Homo sapiens: one gene and its partners. The protein of the gene in region 1 purifies or fractionates together with the protein of each later gene. This does not show direct contact. Each region holds a gene or a part of one and is shown in the gene's direction. Other genes may lie near its edges.

Region 1 (3,500 bases):
TTTTAATGGTGGAAGATAGAATCCTGATCTGTCCCTGGAAGAGTGACTAGGTCCTGATAGTTGTTTCTGCTAGAGGAGAGAATTTGCAAGGATGAGCATAGTGCATTTGGGGTACTAGAAAATTTAAAGGATATAACAGTTTCAGGTTTTTAAATATACCATCCCGACCATGTGTCAATAATTGGTGGAATACCCTTTTCTTTGTTATTACCTACCTCTGATGACTAAAGGAGCTTTAAGTCTTTTTGTTGAGAAGGTAACTCCCAGAGTCCTTGTTTAAAGAACCATCTTCTAACCCTCATGTTATTGATCAGTGTCTAACGTAAACTTTTTTTTCTCTGCCCAAATGTGAATTTTGTTTCCTCAGGACTTTATTTCTGAACAGTTAATGATTCTAGCAGAGACAGCTATAGGAAAGTCCATTGCATTATGCCTTTGGGCATTAGCTAGTCACTAGGGAAGCAGGTGTTCCTCGAAGGGCCAGAACATTAAGGACAAATTGTCTTTTTTAATGTACCAGCCTAATCCTGCACCTTTACTTGGTTAGGGATTTGTTTCGCTCAAATGTCATTGCTGTCCTTTTATTTCTCTTTTGTACATAAGTTATCTCAGGTCAATGATCTTTATTCTCCTTTAATTTGCTGTATGGTTTTAACAGGTTTTTTAGTAAAACTGAGTTTGTGTTTGTTAGTTGCATTAGGTCAGACTGCAAGATTGTTTGTTCAGATGTAGGCCTAACAAGGGATTGTTCTTTTAAAATCTTCTTTAAGGCAAAATTTTCTGTTTTATTTCTTTACAGATTCCAGCAAGATTATGGAAGAGCATAGCTACATACAAAAGGAGCTAGATTTACAAAATGGTAGCTTAGAGGAAGACTCTGTGGTGCATTCTGTTGAGAACGATTCCCAAAACATGATGGAGAGCCTCAGCCCAAAGAAATACTCTTCCAGTCTGAGATTTAAAGCCAATGGAGACTATTCTGGCTCCTATTTAACCCTCTCACAACCTGTGCCTGCAAAGAGAAGCCCTTCTCCTTTGGGAACCAGTGTCAGAAGCAGCCCCTCCTTAGCCAAAATCCAGGGAAGCAAGCAGTTCTCTTATGATGGAACTGACAAAAATATTCCTATGAAACCTCCAACTCCTTTACTCAACACTACATCCTCCCTCAGTGGATATCCACTTGGAAGAGCAGACTTTGATCATTATACTGGCCGGGACAGTGAAAGGGCCTTGAGGCTCTCAGAGAAGCCTCCCTATTCCAAATATAGCTCAAGGCATAAATCGCATGACAATGTCTACTCTCTTGGAGGGCTGGAAGGTCGGAAGGCATCTGGCTCGCTCCTGGCCATGTGGAATGGAAGTTCCCTGAGTGATGCTGGCCCGCCTCCTATCAGCAGATCGGGAGCCGCAAGCATGCCTTCAAGCCCAAAGCAAGCCAGGAAAATGAGCATTCAGGACAGCCTGGCGCTTCAACCCAAGTTAACTAGACACAAGGAGCTTGCATCTGAAAACATCAATTTGAGAACTAGGAAGTACTCCAGCAGCAGCCTGAGTCACATGGGAGCCTACAGCCGATCACTTCCCAGGTTGTACAGAGCCACAGAGAACCAGCTGACACCTCTCAGCTTGCCTCCAAGAAACTCTCTGGGCAATTCCAAACGAACAAAACTTGGGGAAAAGGATCTACCTCATAGCGTAATAGACAATGACAATTACCTTAATTTTTCTTCTTTGAGCTCAGGGGCTTTACCCTATAAAACCTCTGCTTCTGAAGGCAATCCTTATGTAAGTTCTACCCTCAGTGTCCCTGCCAGTCCACGAGTGGCTCGGAAGATGCTTCTGGCCTCCACCTCCTCCTGTGCCTCTGATGACTTTGATCAGGCTTCATATGTGGGGACAAACCCGAGTCATTCACTTCTTGCTGGAGAGTCAGACAGAGTTTTTGCGACCAGGAGGAACTTCTCTTGTGGATCTGTGGAATTTGATGAGGCAGATTTGGAAAGCCTCAGACAGGCCTCAGGAACCCCCCAGCCTGCCCTTCGGGAACGGAAAAGCAGTATTAGCTCCATTTCAGGACGTGATGACCTGATGGATTATCACCGGCGGCAGAGGGAGGAAAGACTCAGGGAGCAGGAAATGGAGCGATTGGTAATCTTCATCTCAACAGTGATTGACCTCACTGTTTCATTAACCAGCATCTACAGGGCAGCCTTGGAGATGGACTCCAGGATATGTGGGAATATAGGATATTCATGTTCACTAGCCACAGCTGCTATCTTTCTCTTCTCTCCTGCTATCCTTCTTCTTCCCATATCACTATTAATAGGCTTGTTTGGCTATCTTGAAGGCCTCCAGGAATTAATGTTAATTTAGTTGCTCTGCGGACTTCTCACAAGTATAAATTCTTTAAAAACATAACAGAGGAGTTGGGAATTTTATGAAATTTCTGAGTCTTACAAACTTCTCTTTAAGACTATGAGGAAATGCTGACTTGTATTATTTATATCATTAAATTTGCTTGTGTATGGTTATGAGAAGTAGTCAGTGAAATCATGACTCACCAAGAATTAGGTAGTAAATTTGTCTTTATAGCAAGTTGTCTAGAAAGTTGGAGTTGCCTCAGTGGTGCTCAGCTTTTCTCCACACTGTTCATACACAACCTTACTATCTTTAGCTCTGATTCTTATCACGTACAGTGATTCCAAACTACACATACTCACAAGATCTATTGAGTTGTCTTTTTCCATTTAAAATGAATTTATACTTATTGTTGAAATATTGAAAATAAGACGGGGAAACATCCCTTGAGAGTCTCACCAATGAATGAGAACAAACAACTGCATTTTTCCTTTCTCTTTTAAGCACAGGTTTTTCTCTTAGAATGAATATCTGTGAGAGATTACTTTGATTCATTTTTGATTCATGATTTCCTTAACAAGAGAAGCTGCAGGATAGTAAAGCTGATTTACAGCAACACAGTAGGATTATCAGTGTTTTAGTCGCTAAAATATTCTAGAATATGATTTTTGAATCACAAAACTGGTTGATACCCTATAGGACAATAAAATTGTAACCCAGGCTTGTCCAACCTGTGGCCTGTGGGCCGCACAAGGCCCACAATGGCTTTGAATGCCACCCAATACAAACTCAAAGTTTCTTAAAACATTATGAGATTTTTTTTGCCTTTTTTTTTTTTAAGCTCATCAGCTATCGTTAGTGTATTTTATGTGTGGCCCAAGACAATTCTTCTCCAGTGTGGCCCAAGATTGGACACCCCTGTTGTAACCTTTGGATTATAATGGACAGAAACCATTTGCATCCATCCAGAAGGAAATACGTTTGACATTTTAGAGCAGTAATCATTTGCATCACTCATAGTTTTTGATAAGTTGATGTCTGTTCTTACAGAGTTTTCAAATACCCTAACTGACAATAGTGAATGAAAACAAATGTGCATACCCTTAGAGAATTTAGACAGTCTTTGAGTGGGTCAGTTATAC
Region 2 (3,500 bases), on another chromosome or scaffold:
TACCTCAGTGAATAAGACAAGAAAGTTCCATTGTAGTGGGAGAACAGAAATATACATACGAACACATAAATAATATCACATAAAGAAATTATGATGAAAATGGGGATGTAATGAAAATCAGATGAGGGAGGCAATGTTAGATGTGGAGGTCAGGGGAAGCCTCTGTTGGGAGATCTTTGAGCTAAGCCCAGGAGGATTTGGAGATATGTGAAGACTGGAGGAAGGGCAAAGGCCCTGATATGAGGATGAGGGTAATATATTTGTGGGAAAGAGAGAGCCAGTGTGGCTGGAATATAGTAGTTGGGGTGGAGCTGATGGGCAGGGGCCAGATCATGCAGGGCCTTGAAGGCCATGATAAGGCACCTGGATTTCACCTTAAGTGTGATGTTGGGCCATGGAAGGGTTTTAAGCAAGGGAATGACTCATGCCATGTTTTTAAATGATGGCTGCTATGGAGAATAGGCTGGTGGGAAGTTGAGGGTAGGGTTGGGGGTGGAGGGTTGGCAAGAGAGTTCGCAAATGTCCACCAGGTGGGAGGCTGTTTCACTCCCACTTCAGGTGGGAGTGAACCTGGTGGTGTGAATTAAAATGCTCATGGTGGAGAAAGGGAGTAGATTTCAAATGGTGGTGGTAGGTCTGACAGGATTTGCTGATGGATTGGATGGGAGGGCAAAGAAAGAGAACTCCAGGATGATTCCCAGGTATGTGGCTAAGCAACTGGGTGGTGTGGCTGTTTACGGAGATGGGGAAGATGGAGGAAGTTGTGGAAGTGACTGCCTGGACCAGGCAGGGGCTGCTGCTGAGAGGTCAGAGGCAGGACTGCAAAGAGTCTAGATCAGGAATGGCAGGATATTGTATGTGCTGTCCCCCCTCAAGCCCTGCCCCCACTCCCTGGATCATAGTAGATGTTACTGGTCAATTTTGGCACTCTTTATCAACGAGCCCAGACCTGGCCTCAGAATCTTTCTCAGGACCGTCTTGGCATAAACTGTGCAGGTTGTGTCCTTCACACAGGTGCCAGCCAGAGGTGAGAGTCCTGGTCTGGTTTCAGCGGCATCAGGAGGGAGCACGTTTATCTAATTTGTTTGCCTGGAGAGGGTCAGCTTTTTCTAATTTGTGGAAAGGTGTCCAGTGAACTCGTTGGGACTCTACCTAATTATCCTCCATCAGTGCATGAGATAAAACCTATTTGCCATTCATAGTCCTCTGCACTGTCCACATCAGTTACATATGGCTATTTAAATCTTACTTTTAGTTCATTAAAATAAAACAAAACATTAATTCCTTAGTTGCTGTAGCCATATTTCAAGTGCTAGATGGCTACTGAACATTTCCATCACCGCAGAAGGTTTTATTGGACAGAGCTGGTCTAGGTATGTAAATGTTTAAATTCTGCATCCTACCCTCCTCCAAAAAATGTAAATTTTCTCTGTGGAAGGCCTGTTCAAGTTCTGGGGCAGAGGAGATGCTTAGTTTCACTTTGGTCACTCTCCTTTAGGAGAGTGGCTGAGGGTGCTGTGTTCTTTCTCAACCAAGTTCAGCAGGTCCTCAAAAGAGAGACCCATTGATGTTTCAGGGAATGGCAAAAGAGATAGTCGTGGAAGAGTAAATCCAAGAAGACTTTCTGGAGGAAGTGACTCAAGTTGCAAGTAAAGGGGGCTTATTTTAAAATATGTGCTAGGCCCAGGTAGAGATGAGACTTTCCCATATAATTCTCAAACAATGCTACGAAGGAGGTGGAATACTCCCCATTTTACAAACTCAGGTTCCAGGGGTCAAATTCTGTGGGCTTGTCAAGTCCCTAAACCAGGATTTGTACTTAGCCCTGGTGGAGATTCTGAAGGGAAAAAAGGGTAGTGAGAAGCAGAGCAGGAAGTCAGAGACTTAAGAGAGTGGGAGGGGTGGAAGGGATATCAACAGGGGGCCTAATGTGTGTGGGGCCCATGACTCATCCTCTAGCCCCTTGGGATCTGACCCGGGTCCAGCTGACACCCAGCTCTGCGCTCTTTCCCAGGGGAAATGCTGCCCGCTTGGGGAGAGGGTGTGTTTGGGTGGGGAGGGGGCAACAAGGAACTATCCCTGGGTTGGGGAAACGCTAGAAGCACAAGGGTCCAGATCCTGAGCCAGGATTCCCAGTTCCTCTGCCTGAAAGGGTGGGAGCCAGTTTCCTAGGGCGCTCCCGGCCTTGGGCCTTGGGAGAGTGGATTTGGGGCTGGAGATCAGTAGGGAAATAGAGGAGGTGTCTGGACTCGTGGTCCCACTCATCCATGCTGGGCCCAGTGACCTCCCTAGGGCCCCAGCTCTCCCAATTTATACACTATTCGCCCTCCATACTCTCAGGCAAGGGGTCACCTTGGAGGGCAAACGCTACGCGGGAGGGGCCTCCCGGAGCTGGAGCACGTCGTGAAGGCCAGGAGCCTTTTCCAGGGCGGCGCGGGCGCACTCCTGGAGGTCCGGTCCCGCCGCGATGGAGTCTCGGTGGAGGCACCGCCTTGAGCCAAGCCCAGCCAGGTGCCCGGAGGGACCTCCAGCGCCCTGGTACCCCTCAGTTGCTCTCGCGGCAATTGGGAGCTGATGTCACCGGCGTCCTGAGCGCTGCAGCTGGAGGCGGTGCAGCTATGCTGGCGCCCTGGCTCCTCCGATTTCCCGCGGCCCTCGGACCCAGCCGGCTCCCCAGGCCAGTGCAGCTCTCTGGACCTCGCGCGCCTCTGCGCGCCTCTCGCAATGGAGCGGGCTGGGGAAGGATCCGTGAGTGCTGGGACTGGGATGAGACTAGCCAAGATGGGGGTTGAGGACACCTCCGTGTCCCCCTCCTGCCAGGCTCACCCATTTGGGATGTTTGTGGCTGAAGCTGGGTGCAGACTGGGGTGGGGGTTGTCGGGCAGCGCAGAACCCTGGTGCAGACAAAACTAGACTGGGAGGACCTATGTAGTCTGAAAGGGCTTCCTGGTGAGGGGCTTTGGGAAAGGGTTGGCTTATTACAGAAGGAAAACGGGTGGATGGTGATGGGGGAAGGTGATAAAAGTCCGGCCTAGCACAGTGGCCCAGAAAATAGCCAAGGAAGCATCTGTAGGCAGGCAGGACAAGGCTTTTTAGAAGAGGGAATTTAGGGTGTTCGGGTCTGAGAGACTTGAAGGCTGGAGCCACTAGGGACAGATGCAAGGGCACAGTGTATGGAGGAGAGCTGGTGTGAGGAAAAAGACAGGTTTGGAGTGGTCACATTAGTTCCCCTGTTTCAAATGGATGGCTCGACTTGTCTCCTGAACCAATCTGTACACTGTGATAGAGTTAGTCTTCCAACTCCTCTCTGAAGCTTTCCTTGATCACCTCAGCCAGAAGCAAACAGAGGCTGTTTCTTGTGAGCATGGTTGTGCCATGACATGGCACTTATGGAGCAGCCATTAAAGTCATCATCTCTCACCTCCCAGCTGGATTTTAAATGTACAACCTTGGACAGTACAGGGATGCTCCAGTGTTGACTGAGTAAATGCTGCTACCAC
Region 3 (3,500 bases), on another chromosome or scaffold:
CAAAACCTTAGAAGCGTAACTTTCTTCACTGAACTTTTTTAGCTACGAGGGTGAGTGGGAGGGAAATGTGATTTTCCTTTTTGATCCTTCCTGTGTCCAAACAGGCACATTTTAAGTTGCTTTCTTATCTCTAAATTCAAATACAGCTTTATCATGTTACATGTTTTGTATCTATAACTTTTCTATTCACTTTGTTAATTTTACCAAAAGTTTTTTTGACTCGACTTTGTTTCCATCAGTGTTGTCTCTTTCAGAGAGTGAACATTAGGAGAGCAGGAACTAGATTTATCAACTGTTTTTCTCAACTCTTCCTGCTTTTTGTTGAAGGGAGAATACAGAAATGAAAGGAGGTAGAAATTCCATTCTAAAAAGTTTTACGCTGATTCATAAATCTTAAATTATCCATGACATTGCACTAAGATGTGTTTCAGGCTAACTTGAAAGAGTGAGCCATCCCTTCTGTCTGAGATGCAACTTTTATGTAATGTGAGTGGAATTCAGGAAAGCCAAGAAGGGATGTAAAGAAAATAGTTTGCCTTATTTGATTATCTTAGCTCATCTAATATTCAAGTACTGTGAAGTTATATTTCTGTTTTTAAATAGTGTTTTATTACATTCTGAAGTAAGAATATTTACAGGCATTCTAAGTCTGTGTTTACAAGTTCAAAAACTATTTCTATTTTTTTGTTGTTTGTTTAAGAGCCTGGGTATTACCATGTTACCTAGGCTGGTCTCAAATTCTTGGGCTCAAGCCATCTGCCTGCCTTGGCCTTCTAAAGTGCTGGGATTACAGGCACAAGGCACTGTGCTGGGCCTGGAAATTTTCATAAATACTTCTGAAGTGTATATCTCTGAATTATTGGGGCATTTGAATAGTTATTCATCAGCACAGTTCCTTCTACTGCCCTGAAACATTGAGAGCTGGCGTTGTATTTTAGGCTGTACCAGTTAAAGAATCTGAGAAGATCTCATTTTGGAATGTGGAAGTATTTTATGAGGAACGCTACATCTTTCTGGTGACCCTACCATATTGCACTGTAATTCTTTCACAACAGGAACTGTAGTGTTCCCCCAACCCCACCCCCTTCCCACATCTTCTTCTTGTAACCTTTAAACTGCTCTTTATGCCCTTGGCACGATGTTGTTTCTTTCATTCTATTCCTTGAATTAGGAATAGAATGTGCTCCCTTCCTTACCACTTAATCATTTCTTGAAAAAAAATTTTTTTCATTATTCTGCTTGTTGGTTATTTCATTGTAAAATAGGTAAATAAAGAAGATGTCAAATGAGCACCTACCTCTATTTTATCTGAAGTTTAGTGGAGAAGATCATGACCAGAGATTTGGAGGTAACAGCATAGAGATGATATTTAAAGCTGCAGGCACCTACAGTATCAACAGACAGAGTACTGGTTGCCATGCAGATTTCCAGCCAGTAACTTAATTATTCTGCCTTTGTTCAGCTGCACAGACAAATGTGAGCCAGCCCAATCAACACTCTGCTTTCCACAGTGATATTATTACTCCAGTGGACCCATGCTTCTGTCTCATCCTAATACACTCAGTGCTCACATGCATCCTGATAGAAATACCTTTTATACCCCTTTCCAGAAATATGAAAAATGTCAAGAGAGATAAACCATAGACACCACCTTTTCAATGGACCCCAACTAAAGACTGAGTAGTGGGCAAAAAGAGGCAAGAGAAAATGAAGAAGCACATGGTTATCACAGAGGTCCAGAAAAGAGAGGTTCAGGATGGAGGATGGGTTCAGGAGTACAGATGCTTCACAGAGCCAGAATGACAAGGGATTTTTGGCAATCAAGAGATCCCATAAGAGGTTCTGCTTTCAGCATTCTCAGGGACTTGATATTCTAAATGGCTGACCTACTGTGGTACAATTAGTCCCAGCAGGAGATTGTAAGCTCTGTTATTAAAGAGCTTACAATCAAAATGGAAAGTGTATAGGAAGGAGGCATGACCCATGCATCCCCCGTCATCTTCTTACTTGTCTGTGTCTCCCTGCTACACCTGGAGCTTTCCTTGAAGGAGGGACTGGTGGATGTATGGTCCATGCTCTGAAGACACTACAGAAACACAGGGGGTGATTTGGATGAGAGGAGGAAGCATTTCTTCTGGAAGAATGGTGGGTTAGGTTGTGAGAGATCTTGAGTGATGAAAAGACTTTCAACTAGTTGAATTGAACTCATTGAACTAAACTGTGGGCCCTCTAGATGGAATTAGTATTCTAGCTACCTGGATCTACCATAGACTTAGATAGTATCTAGAGCTGTAAAATTAAACATGTAATAAGGAAAATTTTTATATAGCCTGCTCTTTCAACAGATGGAGGTGACATGCTGTGAATTCGTATTGCTCTTCTGTTTAATTCTATTGCTTTTTACCATATTGGTACTTAGGCAGGTTTGCTGATATTTAAGAGAGTTGCTGATCATTGTCAACATAGGTTTGCTGTTTCAGTCAACCCTAAGGAATAGATGTGAAGGTATTATTGATCTGTCATCATATGATACACATCGATGGACAGCATTATTTTTGACTGGTAGTTTAATAAGTGCAAAGCATGTATATTTCCATATATGCTAGTCAGTGCCCAAAGTTTATATTGTACCCCAAAGGGGTTTGATGCTATAAATAAGAATGAGAAAAGGGAGGGAGGGAGGGAGGGAGATGGAAAATGAGAGGGAGAAAAAAAAAACATAGAAAAGGAAGGTCCTTATGACTGAAAAAAAATCTGTTATTTAACATAATTGCCCATCTCGAACCTCATCAGTTTTTACAAGCCATTAAAACGTGGCTTCTCTCTCTCCCATGTGCTTATTTATATTTTGAAATGAAAAGAAAACATTGAGTCGTTGTTATATAATGTAATGGGAGTCTTGAAATTTCTTTTGAATTGGTAAGAAATTTTTATATTTAAAAATAAGATTTTATAAACTCATTAAAAATATTGGAAGTATATGAGATGGTTTGGAAGAGAAATACTGATGGTGGAGACTGAGCATTTCCAAGTCAGTTTTATTTCTTGTATTTTACTGCCAGCTTTTAGTTTCCTCCTCTAATGGAAATAACTTCACATATCCTGGGAAAGACAGCTGTGCAGTAAAGTATTTTCTAAGGCACATGAAATGTGGCAAGAGTTTTTATCATGGTGGGATTGGTGTGTTGTCCTTTTAGAGAATGAATGTTTGGGGAATGAAAGATGATTTATTTGGATTTCTGTGAGGTTGTGAGAAATGTTGAAAGCATCTAATTTTTATAAAATCTACTTTAGAAGTATTATTTATGCTATGTAGAGTATTCATTGAAATAATCAGCTTTTGGGGAGATGTTGAACAGGTGTTTGCATTTTGGTTCAGTTGTTCAATTTTCCTTCCATTTTATGAGAATCACTTCTTGAACCTTTGCTATGGCCATATATGCTGTCCTTTGATATCCTCGGAAGCAACAGTTAGCATGTTTTGTCACTTGAAGGGTTAT
Region 4 (2,807 bases), on another chromosome or scaffold:
TTAGTACTATTAATAATACCTTTTACACAAATATTTTTGACTTTAAAGCACTTTCATGTAAAAAGTAACTATGACTGTATAATTGCATAGAGCAGACTTAAGCTGTTTGACACCTATGTCTCTTTTGTGTCTTCTGTTTAAACTTGGGCCAATTCCTGGTGGATATTAGTTCATATTACAAAATTCTGATGTTCCAAAAAGTAGAATATATATAGAGATCAAACATTCAAAAGATACATTCTCTCCTAAGCTCAAAGGTTATATTTTTATTGGGTAGAACAGTATAGGTAAGTTGACATGAAATTGCATCCTGCACCATGACCACATTAGTAATATCAGAACTTTTGAGAAATACTGGATTTTGAATGGTTTGAGACTAATTCTTTAAAAATTAGGCTGAGCAACACTCACAATCCAAAAATATTCATATTAAGACTTACACATTTGAAGAATGGTACATTTTGTATAAAATCATATTTGATACCATTATTTCCACATACCTACTTTTCATCTGTTGCTTAATTTTTTCTTTTTAGAGTTCTTGCTCAACTTTATATGGAACAAGTCTTATTATTTTTGAAAGAGTGTTTAGTACCTTGTATTAAGAAACTTGGCCAAGCGTGGTGGTTCACTCCTGTAATCCCAGCACTTTGGGAGGTCGAGGCGGGCAGATTGCTTGAGGCCAGGAGATTGAGACCAGCCTGGGCAACATGGTGAAATCCTGTCTCTAAAATTTAAAAAAAAGAAGAAGAAGAAACTCGAGACTACATCTTCAAAAAACAACTTTGCAGTATTTGAATTTTACATTATACTGCCCTTCATTTCTGACAGCCAAATAACTTTATTGATATTTATTGCTTTTGTAGTTGTTATAACTAATAATTTCTTTGAAAATGTGTTGTAGTTTATGTTTTTCAAAGGGTTTTGGTAGTGTTTGTGATAGAATGGTTTTGCATATGATTATTATAGGGGATATATTTATAGAGCTCTACTTGTATACTTTGTGACTTACATTATGAAAACTTCAAAGTTCTCAATCCATACAGTTAGTATTTGTATCCAGAGTGTTTAAGAAAAAAATCTGTCTTATATTTTTAGTATATAGGAGCCAGTGTTGCTTCTATTTGTTTTGAATACAAATTCCAGTTTTCTTTGCATATTAGATCCCATATGTAAGAAACAACCTTAAACAATAATTTGTATGCTGGTAATATTTGGACAAGTGCCATAAATTAATGTATATTGTACTTTCTGAATAGATTTTCTCTAATCATAGCAAAATTTATTTCAAAACTACAACTCTTTGAATTATTCCGCTATAATAAAATTTAGTTATAAAATTATGTGGCACTACTGAAAATCTAAAGGATAATCTGAAGAATGAGTAAGACAGATATTGATAGAAATTTTTAGTATTTTCAGAATGTTTGGGTTCATACACATAAGTGAAATCATTTTAAAAACTAGGGGCTGGGCACAGTGGCTCACACCAGTAATCCTAGCACTTTGGGAGGCCAAGGCAGGAGGATTGCTTGAGCCCAGGAGTTTGAGACCAGCCTGGGCAACATAGCAAGACCCCTTTATCTATAAAAATAATAATAACTAGGTACCATTGTGAAAAATAATAACTAGGGATTGATTATAGTATCTTTACTCTGTATTCACAAATCTCTGTATTCCTGAACATATTTAATCCTTTGATTTACCTCTGACTAGGTTTGTCATTGTAATCCCTGGGCTGCTTAGGAGGATACCATTTGGTTTGATGAAAAAGCTGGAATGATAATAGCTCAAACTCTTTTGAGCATTTAGTACATGCTTGGCACTGTTCTATATGTCTTAAGTTATTCACTCTTGTATTTAACCATCAACACTCTTATGAGGTAAATATCCCGCAATTACTTTTGCGCCAACCTAGTACCACTACAGACAAGGAAACAGATGCAGAGAGGCTAAGTTACAAGGGCACACAGCCATAAACTTTGGATCTGTGGAGTGACTGGGCTTCAGAGTCCTCTTCCTGACTGCTGTTCCTATGTCTTTTGCAAAGAGAAGTCTTTGACAGGTATATGCTTTATTAAAATCATGTTTAGAAAGAAATGAGAGAATAGAATTAGAAAAAGGAATGACTGTAGGCTTCGATGAAAATGACTTTTGTGACTAGGTGAAAATTGTTTGGCTGGGTATCCTGGAAAATTGTCTTCTGGGAATATCTATATTCCAGGGTTCACTTTTGTCATAGAATTGTTTCTTGGCCCATTTAAGAGAGATACTTTGTTTATTAATAAATCAAACGTTTTAATTTTAGACATCTGTGATCAGTTCTTTTAAAGAGACTATATTTATTTAAGTACTTCCCAAGTTTAGTGCAGGGGTACTACCTACCATTTATTCAGGATCATAGAGGATAAGTTAGGGTCAAAGAAAATAGAGACTGCCATGACAGCGGCTTGCTTGCTTTCTCCCCAGGAATAATGCACAAATAATTTATAGCAGCTGATATTTTTCGGTGTTAACAGATAATAGGGGAATTTGCTGAAATTTTTATTTGGAGCCTCGGATTTAATTTTAGGCCACTGGGCTAATTTATTTTTAAATGTAAATTAATTCCAGTACTTTATTTGTAAAGTTTACTTGAGATCTAACTGTTCTAAGACATGCTGTTGCATTACAAATAAGAATTGCTGCATTTATTTTGATCCCATTGCCAGAGGCAAAATTAGTCAAAATTTAAAGGTATGTAGAAATACTTTTGTAATCCTTCTAAACTACATTAAATTTCTGGCTGACTGGTGGCTCACACCTGC

The links.
Region 2: the proteins of PHLDB2 (region 1) and RTKN purify together in Homo sapiens (affinity purification with mass spectrometry, with the first as the bait; one large-scale study listed by BioGRID). This does not show direct contact.
Region 3: the proteins of PHLDB2 (region 1) and SIPA1L1 purify together in Homo sapiens (affinity purification with mass spectrometry, with the first as the bait; one large-scale study listed by BioGRID). This does not show direct contact.
Region 4: the proteins of PHLDB2 (region 1) and SRSF12 purify together in Homo sapiens (affinity purification with mass spectrometry, with the first as the bait; one large-scale study listed by BioGRID). This does not show direct contact.

The regions. Positions count from the first base shown.
Region 1 is NC_000003.12:111,883,265-111,886,764, forward strand, and holds part of PHLDB2 (pleckstrin homology-like domain family B member 2), read left to right. Parts: intron 1-799; coding exon of another isoform or gene 800-813; coding exon 814-2,148; intron 2,149-3,500. UniProt on the Homo sapiens protein: Seems to be involved in the assembly of the postsynaptic apparatus. May play a role in acetyl-choline receptor (AChR) aggregation in the postsynaptic membrane.
Region 2 is NC_000002.12:74,435,438-74,438,937, reverse strand, and holds part of RTKN (rhotekin), read left to right. Parts: intron 1-3,500. UniProt on the Homo sapiens protein: Mediates Rho signaling to activate NF-kappa-B and may confer increased resistance to apoptosis to cells in gastric tumorigenesis. May play a novel role in the organization of septin structures.
Region 3 is NC_000014.9:71,582,476-71,585,975, forward strand, and holds part of SIPA1L1 (signal-induced proliferation-associated 1-like protein 1), read left to right. Parts: intron 1-3,500.
Region 4 is NC_000006.12:89,095,459-89,098,265, reverse strand, and holds the end of SRSF12 (serine/arginine-rich splicing factor 12), read left to right. Parts: 3' UTR 1-2,307; downstream 2,308-2,807. UniProt on the Homo sapiens protein: Splicing factor that seems to antagonize SR proteins in pre-mRNA splicing regulation.